Linked DNA regions of Homo sapiens. The protein of the gene in region 3 interacts with the protein of the main gene of each other region in a biochemical or structural test. Each region holds a gene or a part of one and is shown on either strand. Other genes may lie near its edges.

What was found.
Region 1: the proteins of SCHIP1 (region 3) and PTMS form a complex in vitro, tested with the Homo sapiens proteins (one large-scale study listed by BioGRID).
Region 2: the proteins of SCHIP1 (region 3) and ZC3H13 form a complex in vitro, tested with the Homo sapiens proteins (one large-scale study listed by BioGRID).

What each region holds. Positions count from the first base shown.
Region 1 is NC_000012.12:6,765,229-6,769,364, forward strand, and holds the start of PTMS (parathymosin), read left to right. Parts: upstream 1-1,134; 5' UTR 1,135-1,477; coding exon 1,478-1,522; intron 1,523-4,136.
Region 2 is NC_000013.11:46,046,045-46,049,746, reverse strand, and holds part of ZC3H13 (zinc finger CCCH domain-containing protein 13), read left to right. Parts: intron 1-3,702. UniProt on the Homo sapiens protein: Associated component of the WMM complex, a complex that mediates N6-methyladenosine (m6A) methylation of RNAs, a modification that plays a role in the efficiency of mRNA splicing and RNA processing.
Region 3 is NC_000003.12:159,271,981-159,276,125, reverse strand, and holds the start of SCHIP1 (schwannomin-interacting protein 1), read right to left. Parts: upstream 2,883-4,145; 5' UTR 2,306-2,882; coding exon 2,243-2,305; intron 1-2,242.

The DNA of each region.
Region 1 (4,136 bases), on a different chromosome or scaffold from region 3:
TGAGGATGTGTGGAATAGGGTGGGGCTGGAACTCCAGACCTGGACCTGTATTATATTTGCAAAGGAGGCAAATATAACCCAGAAAGGCTAGGGAAGATGGCAGCAGAGGAATGAGAAAAGCTGAAGGATGGAAAATGTAAAAAATGAGGACAGAAAGAGGAGTTGAGGAAAGCCAGCCAAGAATAGAGGGCCAGGTGCCTGACTCAGATAAGACAAGAGCAGGGTTGTCTGGGAAAGATAGGGAAAGAGACCAGAGGTGGAAGGGCAGAAGAGAGTCAGTGAGGAGTGGAGAAGAGGTGAGAGAAGAATGGGAGCGATTCGAGTTATAATTGGTTGTGAAGGAGGGGTCTAGGTACAGATGACTGAGGACGGATGAAGAGAAATAGAAGGACCAGGCGAATAAAAGTGAGGTGAGACGGGCGAATAAGAGAGGTAGAAGATGGAAGAGAGCTGGAAGACAGCAAAGGAGACCAGGGGGCCTGACTCCCCCCGGCTCACAGCACGGGGCCAGGAAGGGAGGCACCCGGCAAGGGTCACAAGTGTCAATCTGGCGGGACAGAAGGCTGGGCCGCCCTTTCTGCCCTCCCATCCCTCCTCAAGGCCATCCAGAGAATGTGGATGGAGGATGAGAGGGGGAAATCCGGCGTGGTGTGGAAGGAGCGCCCGAACCCTCTTCCTCTTCTTTAAGCTTTTGGTTTCTCAAATACCTGCCCTATCTTCCCATCTGCTCCCCTCACCCCACCCCTTGGCAAAATCCCAGGGCTTTTTTTGGGGTCAGTAGGATTCTGGCCACCTCTCCAGTCCGCCCCCAAAAGCCAGACTCCACATTCGCAGGCAGTAGGTTGGGATTTGGAAAGGTGCCTCCCCGCAGGAACCCCACCCCTTCCCACCTCCTCGCCCCACTCTTTCTCCGCGGCCGTCAGTCTCTCCATTTCCCCCTCCTGGTCTCGTCCTCCCTCCCGACTCCCTAGCTCTCCCTCCCCTCGCTTTCATCCTCCTATCCCCACCTCTCCAACCTCCTCTTTCATCCCCCTCCCCTCTCCTCTCCTCCCCGCTCCCGCCTGCCCCACCCCTGGGAAGCCCCTCCCGTCGGGCAGCGCCGCCTTATAAGCGGGTTCCCTTCCCGGGGGCGGCAGCGGCTGGTCGGCGGCAGCTCTGCTGGTGCGGGGGCGGCGAGCCCGGGATCGAGCTACCGCGGCCGAGCGCGCCGGCCACCGCCTGCACCGCCCTTCCGCCCGCCCTCCGGACGGCCGCAGCCCTGCGGGTCTCCGCTCCAGACCCACCCCCGCCCCACCCCGCGCGCCTCTGCCGCCTCTTCCAGAGACCCAGCTTGCCGAGCGGCCGCCGCTGCCGCTGTCGCCGCCGCCGCCGCCACCGCGCCAGGTTCCGGCCGCGGCCACCCTCCGCCGTCCAGGGCCCCTCCGTCTCGGCCCCGGGACCCCGGCTCCCCGCCAGCCCCGGCCCCGGCCCCGGCACCATGTCGGAGAAAAGCGTGGAGGCAGCGGCCGAGTTGAGCGCCAAGGTACGGGCGGGGGCGGCGGCGGCCCGGACCTCGCGCAGCCCTGGGGCCCGGCGCGGTCCTTCGCCCCAGGCCGCCCCCGACGGCCCCGCGCGGCCCTTGCGCCCGGGTCCTGGCGGACCCCACTGCGCCCTCCCACCGCTCCCCGGCCCGGAGCTCCTTTCCCGGCTCCGCGCGGCTAGCGCCAGCGCCCTCTAGCTGCCCTGCGCGCACCACGGCGCCCGGCCTCGCCGCTCCGGTCGCGCCGTCCCCCGCAGCCGTCCCCACCCCTCTTCGGCCCCACCTCGCTGACCGGATCCCGTCCGGCTTCCCGTCCGAACGCCCCGAGTCTCACTTTGCCGCGCCCCCTCCCTGCGCCCCGCTGCCGCGTCTTTGCTTGCAACCTGACCTCACCTTTCCTCGCTAAGCGGTTTGAGATCCTCAAGTGTAAACAGGACTCTCCCTGGAGGCTGCTCCTCCGGGCCCCTCCCCGCGGCCCGACCGTCGCTCGCTTCTCTCCCCGGACGGCGGCCGCCTCTGTTTTCTCGTTCCCTCCCCTCAGCTGGCTTTCAGCTTTCTTTTCTCTTCATCGTCCCCTTCCCGCATACACACTGAAAGAATCTCGAATTCCTAAAAATTAGAAGCGGGGCAGGACTAGCCTTCGAAAAAGCCGAGGCTGGGCATTGCATGGCATTGCGTCGAGCTGTCCTCGCCCTCATCAGCTCCCTTCCCCGGCCCCATCCGTTCGCCCTTGCCTCTCTTCCAGCCTTCCTCTAATTTCCCCAGGGAACCTGCGGAGTGTCGCTTTGGGAAATTAACGCGGCCGGGGTTTGGGGGCTGGGAGCCCTATCTTGTGTGTGTATGTGTATGGCGGGGGGGGGGGGCGCGGTGGTTGCTGAGGGGCCGTCACACAGGTCTCCCGGAGGCCCGCGGAGTGAAACGGGGGGAGCCAATGGGATTAACGGCGGTGGGAGAGGGGCTGTGTGCGATCTGCCAAGGTGCGCCCGTGTGGCCCTCCGGCGGGCTGTGCGGTGGCATGTGACTTCACTGAGTAGGTGTCTTTGTATGTCTGAAATCCAGCGAGTGTGTGGGACTGCCCGTGTCAGTTACATGTGTGCATGTGGAGACGTAGATGTTCTGGAGCCATGTTGTCGCTTTGTGAGTGCTGAGTGGCTCCGCTGTGCTCCCGTGCTGTCTCAAGAGTGTGGACCAGAATGGCCCAACGCTGGGCCATGTGTCTCCCATCGCGTGGGTGCTCCTCTCTAACTGTGTCTGTGCATGGCTGTCGGCCGGTGTCGGTGTGTGTGCCTGTGTTGAGTAAATGAGGCCAGAGGGCTGCTTAGCAGAAGACCTAGGGCCCAGGTCACATATTCTCCTGGAAAAGGGATCATGGAAGGACAGTGACCAGAAGGACAGAACAGGGGAGGAGAGGGCCCGGCCCCTTGAACTTTGGTCTCTGGTATTCTCCCTCCCTGCATCAGCCCAGATGGGAAAGTCAGGCCAGGGCCATACAGACTTTTGGTGCTGGGGCCCCCAGAGAGAAGCTGACCAGCTCTTTGCTCTCCTGGCCCAGGACGTAGGGAAGAGCCCCCTAGGTAGTGGAAATGCCATACTGACCTTGTGGCACAGAAATGAAGACCTCACGGTGGGGTGGAAGGGCACCCTCTCTGGAGTGAGAGTGAAGAGTTCTGAGCTACCCTTAAAGGGAGAAGGGAATTGAGTGCCCCCCAGGGCAGCCGTTCTGCACCAGGCTCCTCTCCTATCCCCTATCCTGTTCCAGAAAGGACCCCCCCGCCCAGGGTGATCTCACACAGGAGACTTCCATTCACATGGAATCAGATACACAGCGTGGCACACCAACACCAGATCAGATCACACAAGGACACCTACCGTGTTACACTGTGCCTGCCAAGGAGTGGGTGGGGAGAGCACTGGAATCTGAATTGGGAGGCTAGTGTAGTGTCCAGAAGGGACTCAGATGTGCCATATCAGCACAGGACGTCAACCTATGCCTGCTAGGATCTTGGGGTGAAGGAGAGGGGCTGGCTGGTGGGAGGGTCTCCTAGACTGGTCCCTCCCTCTTCTCCATTCCTATCCCACCCCAGTCACAGACCTTGTTTGTTGCTCTCTCCTTGTTTCCCACGCCTGCTACTCTTCCCCTCCTTGTTTTCTCTTCTACTTCACCTACATTTCCACCGTAAATGGCTACTTCCACTACACCCATGCATACACCATGGGAGGCAGGGATAGAGGAAACTACTTGAACTGTTTTGGGGCGGGGAGGGCAGAAAGTGGGAGGGGTGCTGGGAATGTGCTAAGGTGTAGTGTTTGGCCAAGTAGGGGCCTGAGGATTAGGGAGACACAGATGGAGAGAAACAAAGACCTTAGAAGCTGAAGGGGAAGCTGGGAGGGATGCCCAGGAGAGAGAGTCCTCAGGAAAAGGCCCCAGAGGTAGACAAAAGGCAGAGCTGGGCGGGCAGTGGCGGGGCAGGCAAGGGAGGCGGAGGGACACAGGAGGGGGCGGGGCACTGAGGCTGCAAGCAGATGGAGAGGATTTGCTTTGCTGAGCTGAACTCTTCAGCCAGTGAGGTTTGGGAGAACTTGATGGGGGTGGGGATCATTACCCTGGTTGCCCGCT
Region 2 (3,702 bases), on a different chromosome or scaffold from region 3:
GTTTCCCGCCCCGAAAATCTACATTTTAACTGTTGTGGTGTTCATTTTCCTTTACGGGCCCAAAGTTTTAAATAGGATTGAAAATTCTAATTGTCACATTAGTTGGTAACATTTAGTTTTAATATATGAAAAAGGAAATGTTTTTCTGCTGTATTGTAGATAGTGTGTATATTTTTAGATAAATGGGATTTTTAAAGTTATATATTGTGTTCTTTACAAGCATGAAGCATTTTGTTTATTCAAATTCATGAATGTCTCATTAGTAATATTTAAGTAACATTTTATTGTTGACTACTTGTGGAAGTTTTTACATGGATGATCAGAAGAATTTTTTCAGTTAGAAATCTTCAGTTTCTGCTTTTTTCTTTTTTCACCAGACGTTTTACACACACACATATATATATCACATTAAAGAACATTTTATTAAGAATATGTGTGTGTGTATTATTGTTGTCATTATTCTTGTTTTAAATGTTCAGTCCAGGACCTTGCTGTAACCCAGACCGCATACTCAGATGCTGTATTACTTTAGGACAAAGTATGGTACTCTTGGAGTCTGAGAAAAAGTAGAGTACATCTTTTTTTTTTTTTTTTTTGAGACGGAGTCTCCCTCTGTTGCCAGGTTGGAGTGCAGTGGCGCGATCTCGGCTCACTGCAACCTCCACCTCCCGGGTTCAAGCGATTCTCCTGCCTCAGCTTCCCGAGTAGCTGGGATTACAGGCGTGCACCGCCACACCCAGCTAATTTTTGTATTTTTAGTAGAGACGGGGTTTCACCATGTTGGCCAGGATGGTCTCGATCTGTTGGCCAGGATGGTCTCAATCTCTTGACCTCGTGATCCGCCTGCCTTGGCCTCCCAAAGTGCTGGGATTACAGGCGTGAGTCACTGCGCTTGGCCACATTTTTACTTAATTTCATTTCTTCGCTAAATTGGGAGACTCAGTACAGTAGTAGCTGCAAGTGAAATTCCTGGGATAATTACTATGTAGGTGAATCTTGAATAGTTCTTGATGTCACTGGTAAAAGCAATTTTGTCTCTGTGGAAAGAATATGGGCGTAGGGTGAGGGAGGTGAGGAGGTGGATCATTAGTCTTCACTTGATTGTCTTTCATAGCAAGTCCAACCCTTGAAATCTTCAAAGTTTTTTTTTTTTTTTTTTTTTTTTTGAGGCGGAGTCTCACTCTGTCACCCAGGCTGGAGTGCAGTGGCGCAATCTCGGCTCACTGCAAGCTCCGCCTCCCGGGTTCACGCCATTCTCCCGCCTCAGCCTCCCGAGTAGCTGGGACTACAGGCGCCTGCCACCACGCCCGGCTAATTTTGTTTTTGTATTTTTAGTAGAGACAGGGTTTCACCATGTTAGCCAGCATGGTCTCGATCTCCTGACTTCGTGATCCGCCCGCCTCGGCCTCCCAAAGTGCTGGGATTACAGGCGTGAGCCACCGCGCCCGGCGAAATCTTCAAAGTTTGCCTTAGGGAGTCTAGGATTGGAGAGAAGCTCTCAGACCAGCAAAGCAATAGGTCAAGGGAGGAGAGTAGTGCGAATCAGGCAACAGAGGACAGACCAGAAAAAGAAACTGTAGAGTTAATACCTGGAACCCTCAAAAAGTAAAAAGAAAGGAGATGATAGATGACCAATGTTTTAAGTATAATAAGTACGATAATAAATAGCCTGTCGTCCTAACTGGAAACCATTACCATTGAATTTTTTGAAGGAGACTGAGCTGGGAGTGGAGGCATGTTGGGGGTAGTAGAGATGTTGGGGGCAGAACTAACTCATTTCCAGTGACAGTGGAGGGAAAAATAAAAAATTAGTGTTAGTCCACTTGAGGCAGTGTGGTGGGATGGTTGTGCCTGTTTTCTAAGTTCTACATAACTAGCAAATAAGGAAATTTTGGAACCTATTCAATTTTGTTTATTAAGAAATGTTTTAAAAATTGAATTATTGGTTGAGGATTACTCTATATTTGTATATTAATGTAGCAATATATAATGAAACTTTATGTTTTTCTCAAACTTCTTATACATTGTGATACATTTACTTATTATTGAATCATGCTTGGATATATATTGTTAAAAAAGTTTTTCTCAAAGCTCTACATTTTCTAGATCTTTCTCAGCTCCACTTCTCTTAGCTTTCAGTTTTTTCGTGCTCAGTAAATCAAATAGACATAGGAAATTTTACCAGCTTCTCCTCCGTATGTTCACATTTCAGCTGAGAATGAGTCTAAGAAAAATTAAATCAAAGATTATCTTATAATGCTAACACCAGTATGTAGAATTGGTGTGTAGTTCCTTACTTGGAGAACAATTAATATTTAATTGATTTTGTGTTGCAGCAAATTATTGTTTATGTGATGCTCTCCACTGGTTCTTAAATTTATAATTACTGTGAAGTAATTCTGTTTTTAAAATCACTAAAAATTAATTGCTATTATATCAAAAGAATTATTACATTTTATATTGATAAAAATATAGATTTTCCAATTTAAAATCACCATATATTATTTCATATTTTCCTTCCTTGATGCACCATCTTTTATTTATCAAATGTTGTTCTTAGTCTTTGGATTCTTTTAAAAGTGTGACCTGAAGTACCTCATTGAACCAAACACTGTTTATAATTTTTTATTGCTGTTTCAATTAGGTACTACCACGATTTAATTTCCTTTAAAGTGATATGTCTTTACTTTGAAACCACATTAAAGATTTGTGATCTTTATAGAGACTAAATGAAACTTTTTTAGCTGCTGTGGTTCATTCTAGTAACTTTTGATGATTGATAAGATTTCAACTAATATTTAGTTTGTATAAAGCGGGATATAGTATGGTGTTTTTTTTCCTTCCCCTTATGAGGCAGTTTCTACCCTCTTCCCACAGTAGTGTATGCTCTGGATTGTATCTTGGTCTAGAATTTAATATTGTTTTCTAATGTCATAATATACTGTCATTATCTGATACTTGCAAATCTAGTTGAATTACCCAATTATGTCATTGGATTAGATTTTTACTATAGTTTCAGTTTTTGAATGTTTTATTTACATACATATATATATATAGAGAGAGTTTTTTTGTTTTTTTTGAGATGGAGTCTCGCTTTGTCGCCCAGGCTGGAGTGCGGTGGTGTGATCTCGGCTCACTGCAAGCTCTGCCTCCTGGGTTCATGCTATTCTCCTGCCTCAGCCTCCAGAGTAGCTGGGACTACAGGCGCCCGCCACCATGCCCAGCTAATTTTTTTTTTTTTTTTGTATTTTTAGTAGAGACGGAGTTTTGCCATGTTAGCCAGGATGGTCTCGATCTCCTGACCTCATGATCCGCCCGCCTCGGCCTCCCAAAGTGCTGGGATTACAGGCACGAGCCACTGTGCCTGGCCCTTAAAAAATATTTTTATGTTTACATCAAATCTAACAGAGCTTAAACGTAAAATAAAATAAAAATATTTTTACAATTTGCCTTTTTTGTTATTACTAATAATGGTAAAATAGTCTGATAATTACTTTTAACACCTTTGAATTTTATGTCAGTGTAGTATAGATTATAGAAACACCTCGACTTTTTCTAGTTCTACAGTCTGTCCTGTTTTGAAAGTTGTTTCTATCAACATTGAGTTTTGTTTTGTTTTGTTTTTGTGTTACTGGAAAATAAATATGCTTGATCAGATTGTTTTGACTTCTGTCAGGCAAAGAAAATACTAAAATATCATTC
Region 3 (4,145 bases):
TTCTTAGTGCCAAAAGGGTTAAAATCAGCAGTAAAAACCACACCCGCCAATTAGCTGCCTCTATATTCAGCCACCCTGCAAAGCATCCTAACTAGGGTGGCTTTCATAAATAAATATGCCCCTACATTCTTTGTAGCCAAAGGTTATAAATCCCTTGCAAGGGTGGGTGGACCACAGTAAAGAGATCTGGGAGCATATTTTTACATTGGCAAGAAAAGCAAAATGTCACTCAACTAAATTTAAGATTGTTCACATACATCTGCTACCACCAGAATGTTATTTAAAAAAGAAAAGAAAGAAAGAAAAAGAAATGTGAATATCTAACAGTTTAGCTCTGAACATTTTTCTACTGTTCAGGTGACTGTTTCAATAATGATTGAAAGGCTATCAAAACAGAAGCAAACATGTGCTTGTAGTTTGTCATACAGCAACAATTTCTGCTTAAATAAATACATAGACAACAATATCTCAACTACAGAAAAATGTGTGTGCTGGATAATAGTTATAAATATATCACTAAAATGTTTGGAAAAAAAGCAGCAAATATAAAAGTTACACTTCTGACAATATCACAAATGAGTCACATCCTTCAGAGAGACAGAGACAAAGATCAAATAAATTTCTGAATCAGAATAAAATCTGACACCATTTCACAGCAAGCAGATGCGTTTTATGACATGAGTCTTGGATTCTTCTGGATTAGAATGTACAATTTAATAAACCAGAATGATTTGTTCAAAGTTCATCAGGGGCTGCAAATGGATACAGTTTGCCATAAGGGAACAATTTAAGTTTAAAATCACAGAGGTACATGCAATGGTGTGTGAAAAGTCCTACTTACCTATTAAACCAAAGCAGAATAATAAAATTTTGGGAAATGAAACTTAAAAAAACTGAAATCATAAATCTACCTTTCATTCTTTTCAAAAACTGAGGCCTTTTAAATACTGACATCAATTATGGAAATTATCAGTGGATCTATTGAGCAAAGATGACAAAAATGTATACTAAGGTCTCCTTTATATAAAATTGTTACATCCTCTAAAATTATGCACTTCATACACTGTCAAAATGTAAGTACCATTTATCCCAAAATCAAATGCCAAATTACTGAAGAGTTAAGAAGCAACAGTAATTCACTTGGAAATTATCCATAACAGAAAGAATCCATTATATTTGAATTGGAGGTCAAGCTGAGTAAATTGCATTTACTACTGGTTTTTAAATATGAAGAAAACTACTAAAGGAAATAAATTTTATAATACAATTATATAAAAATATATTTTATTAGGCTTTAAAATAAATGATTCTGCATAAATAAATGTTCCAAACTAAGTTTAATTGGCCTGAGAAAAGAATCATGATTTGTTAAAGTTACTTTTTAATGACAATATGTTCTCTTAGAAAAAAATTTGAATAGCTAATCAAAATATCTGTTGGGGTCATTCTGGGTAGTAATTCAAAGTATTATTTCTTCGTTGGTTGTGTCATATAATAATATCATAGAACTACAAATTTGATAGTCTAAAAGATGGAGTTAAAAGATGTTTTTGAAGAAACCATTTTTTTTATTTCTGGTTTGAAGATTTAAATTGAACATTTTGAAACTAATTATTTTCAATAATGCTAAAAGTACTATTTCAATAGCCCATATATAATTTTATAAAATTGTCTGTTATTTCTACTTATAATAAGCTGCCACTCTATACATTTCATACCAATAAATTTGAGATTTTTTAAGTCATCAAATATCTCCCATGTATTGACATTAGAATACCTAGACATTTGTTCTTTTGGTAACTGAAAGTATAATCTAAATTGAAAAAGTTTAACACTGATCTTCCCAAACTGTACAAATCAGGAACTACTTTCCAAAGAGAGTCTTGTGCATACAAAGGGCAACAGATTGTACATTTGGAACTATTTACATGTGTATATTAAAATGCTATTTCCAAAGTCCACTGCAATGCAATTAGTTTTGGTGCACTACAAAAAAGAACACTCAAACTTAGATTCTCAAAATTCAAAGCACCAAATATCCACATACTAACTATGCAATGAGAAAGTATTTTTTTCAAATGAACATTCCAATATACCTTAAATGCTTAATTCTGAATTTAAAAATGTAATGAAGGCCATCAGCTTAAATTTAAAGTTACTTAGTTCGACTTTGAAGTTTTCTCTCTTCATTTGTAAAAATATGATACACCTAAAATAGATGGTAGACATTTGTAAAACTTACACTGTCAGAGTGCTTGCCCTGGTCACAGTCCCACGTTGTAACACGCTGCCCGGACCTCTCCATGGTGCTGAAGAGTTACTCTTGCCCATTTGAGAGGGAAGAGTTGTTTATTCAAATTGGCTTTGAAAGAAATCCGTAAAGGGTCACCTGGGTTAGCTAGTAAGGTTGTCTAAAAAATTTCTATAACACACACTAAATAAGTGATGCTTTTGCCCTTCGGTTATCAACCACCATGCTCAAGCAGCTCAAAGTAGATTTTGGAGCAGAAATCTTCAAGTATTGGCAAAAAAGAGCGAGAGCTTTTTGGGAGATGAAGTTTGCTGATTTTTGCCAGTGTTCTTCAAATTGATAAAACACACAGAGAAGACAAGGCTACTCGGAGAACAGAGGATTCCAGAAAAGTTCTTGATCTTAATGCAGAAAAGAAGATCCCATTAGTCCAAAGCAGCCGATTCACTTCATGCTATCATCTGATCTACTTTTCGATTAAAAATAATACAATAAAATAGAGTTAAGAATTCCACAAGGCACTGCACACACCATGTAAACAGGTCTGCCTCATTCTCGCCCCAGCCTCGGTCTGCTGAAGATTATCACAGCAGAAATCAGGCTCTGTGGCTTTCACAGATTATCTCTTTCTGAGGCTGAAACGTATAAAGAGCCACATGACACCCAATGATGTCATCTCTAAAGCAGGTCACAGTTGCTGCTGTATATAGATAAAGTCCTTCTAGTGAAGTATTTAGCATAGTGATTTTCTTGAAAATCTACTTATATTAAATAGCATGGTCTTCTATCAAAATACTTAACCCTATCGATACAGTGCCATGAAGAGAAAATCAATTTGCTGCTCATATGTGAGATGAAGCCTCCCCTTTAAGCTAAGATCAGCTTCTGGTACTGCTTTAAAAAATGAATAACTGCCATTAATTTGTGGTGAATATAGTGAAGAAGGGCTTTTCCCTGGAGAAGCTGCTGTGGGAACTAGAGGCTCTCTAAGGATATAGAATCTACTTCTAAACACCTCTCAGAATATTTAGCATGTCCAAAAATTATTTTTTAATTCAATCCATAAAGATTGCAAAATAAAAATTAAGGAAACCATCTTCAACTTCTAACAACAGTTTATGTAACAAAATTAAAAAGTTATATAAACATAAAAACATCTTACTATCTCTGAAACGATTGGAGTATATTTTCAAGTGTTGGTTAAAGAAAAACGTTCTTTAACTCACTATTTTTAGATGTTTTTCAGTTCTGAATAAAGTAAAAATAGAAAATTAGCTATATTATTACTAATCTGCACACCTAACTGGTAATTCATAGTACACATATTCTTTTAAAGAATGTTTAAATGAGCAATGTCCATGATCATTCTTTGCAACATATTTTTCTCTTTCTATTTAGTCATATGCCATAATTTATGATTTTCAGCCATAATTGTCATTTATGCCAGTTAATAAATTATCTAATCCCCTTTCATGCCAACTAAACAATTCTTATAGCCCAAGTGAAGAATAACTTGAAACTAATCTAATTAGTGCTTATTAAATGTATTCCCTCCCTTAAGGCCAAATGGATCAAACAAAAGCAGCTTTCCTTTAAGAGCACAGTATTCTGTCATATTTTTGAGAAAAAACCATAAATCTGAGGAGAAAACAATTTTCCACACAACCAGTGCCACTGAACAAATTCTATTAAAGCAATGGTGATTGTTCTGGCATCTCATCAGGAAAATATTGCCTCACCAGCTTCTCACCGCGTATCTAAAATATCCAAATAAAAATTGAGAATGCTAAAATATCCAAATAAAATATCCAAATAAAAATTTATTTGGATAAATTTTTATCCAAATAAATTTATGCTAAATATCCAAATAAAAATTGAGAAAAATATCCAAATA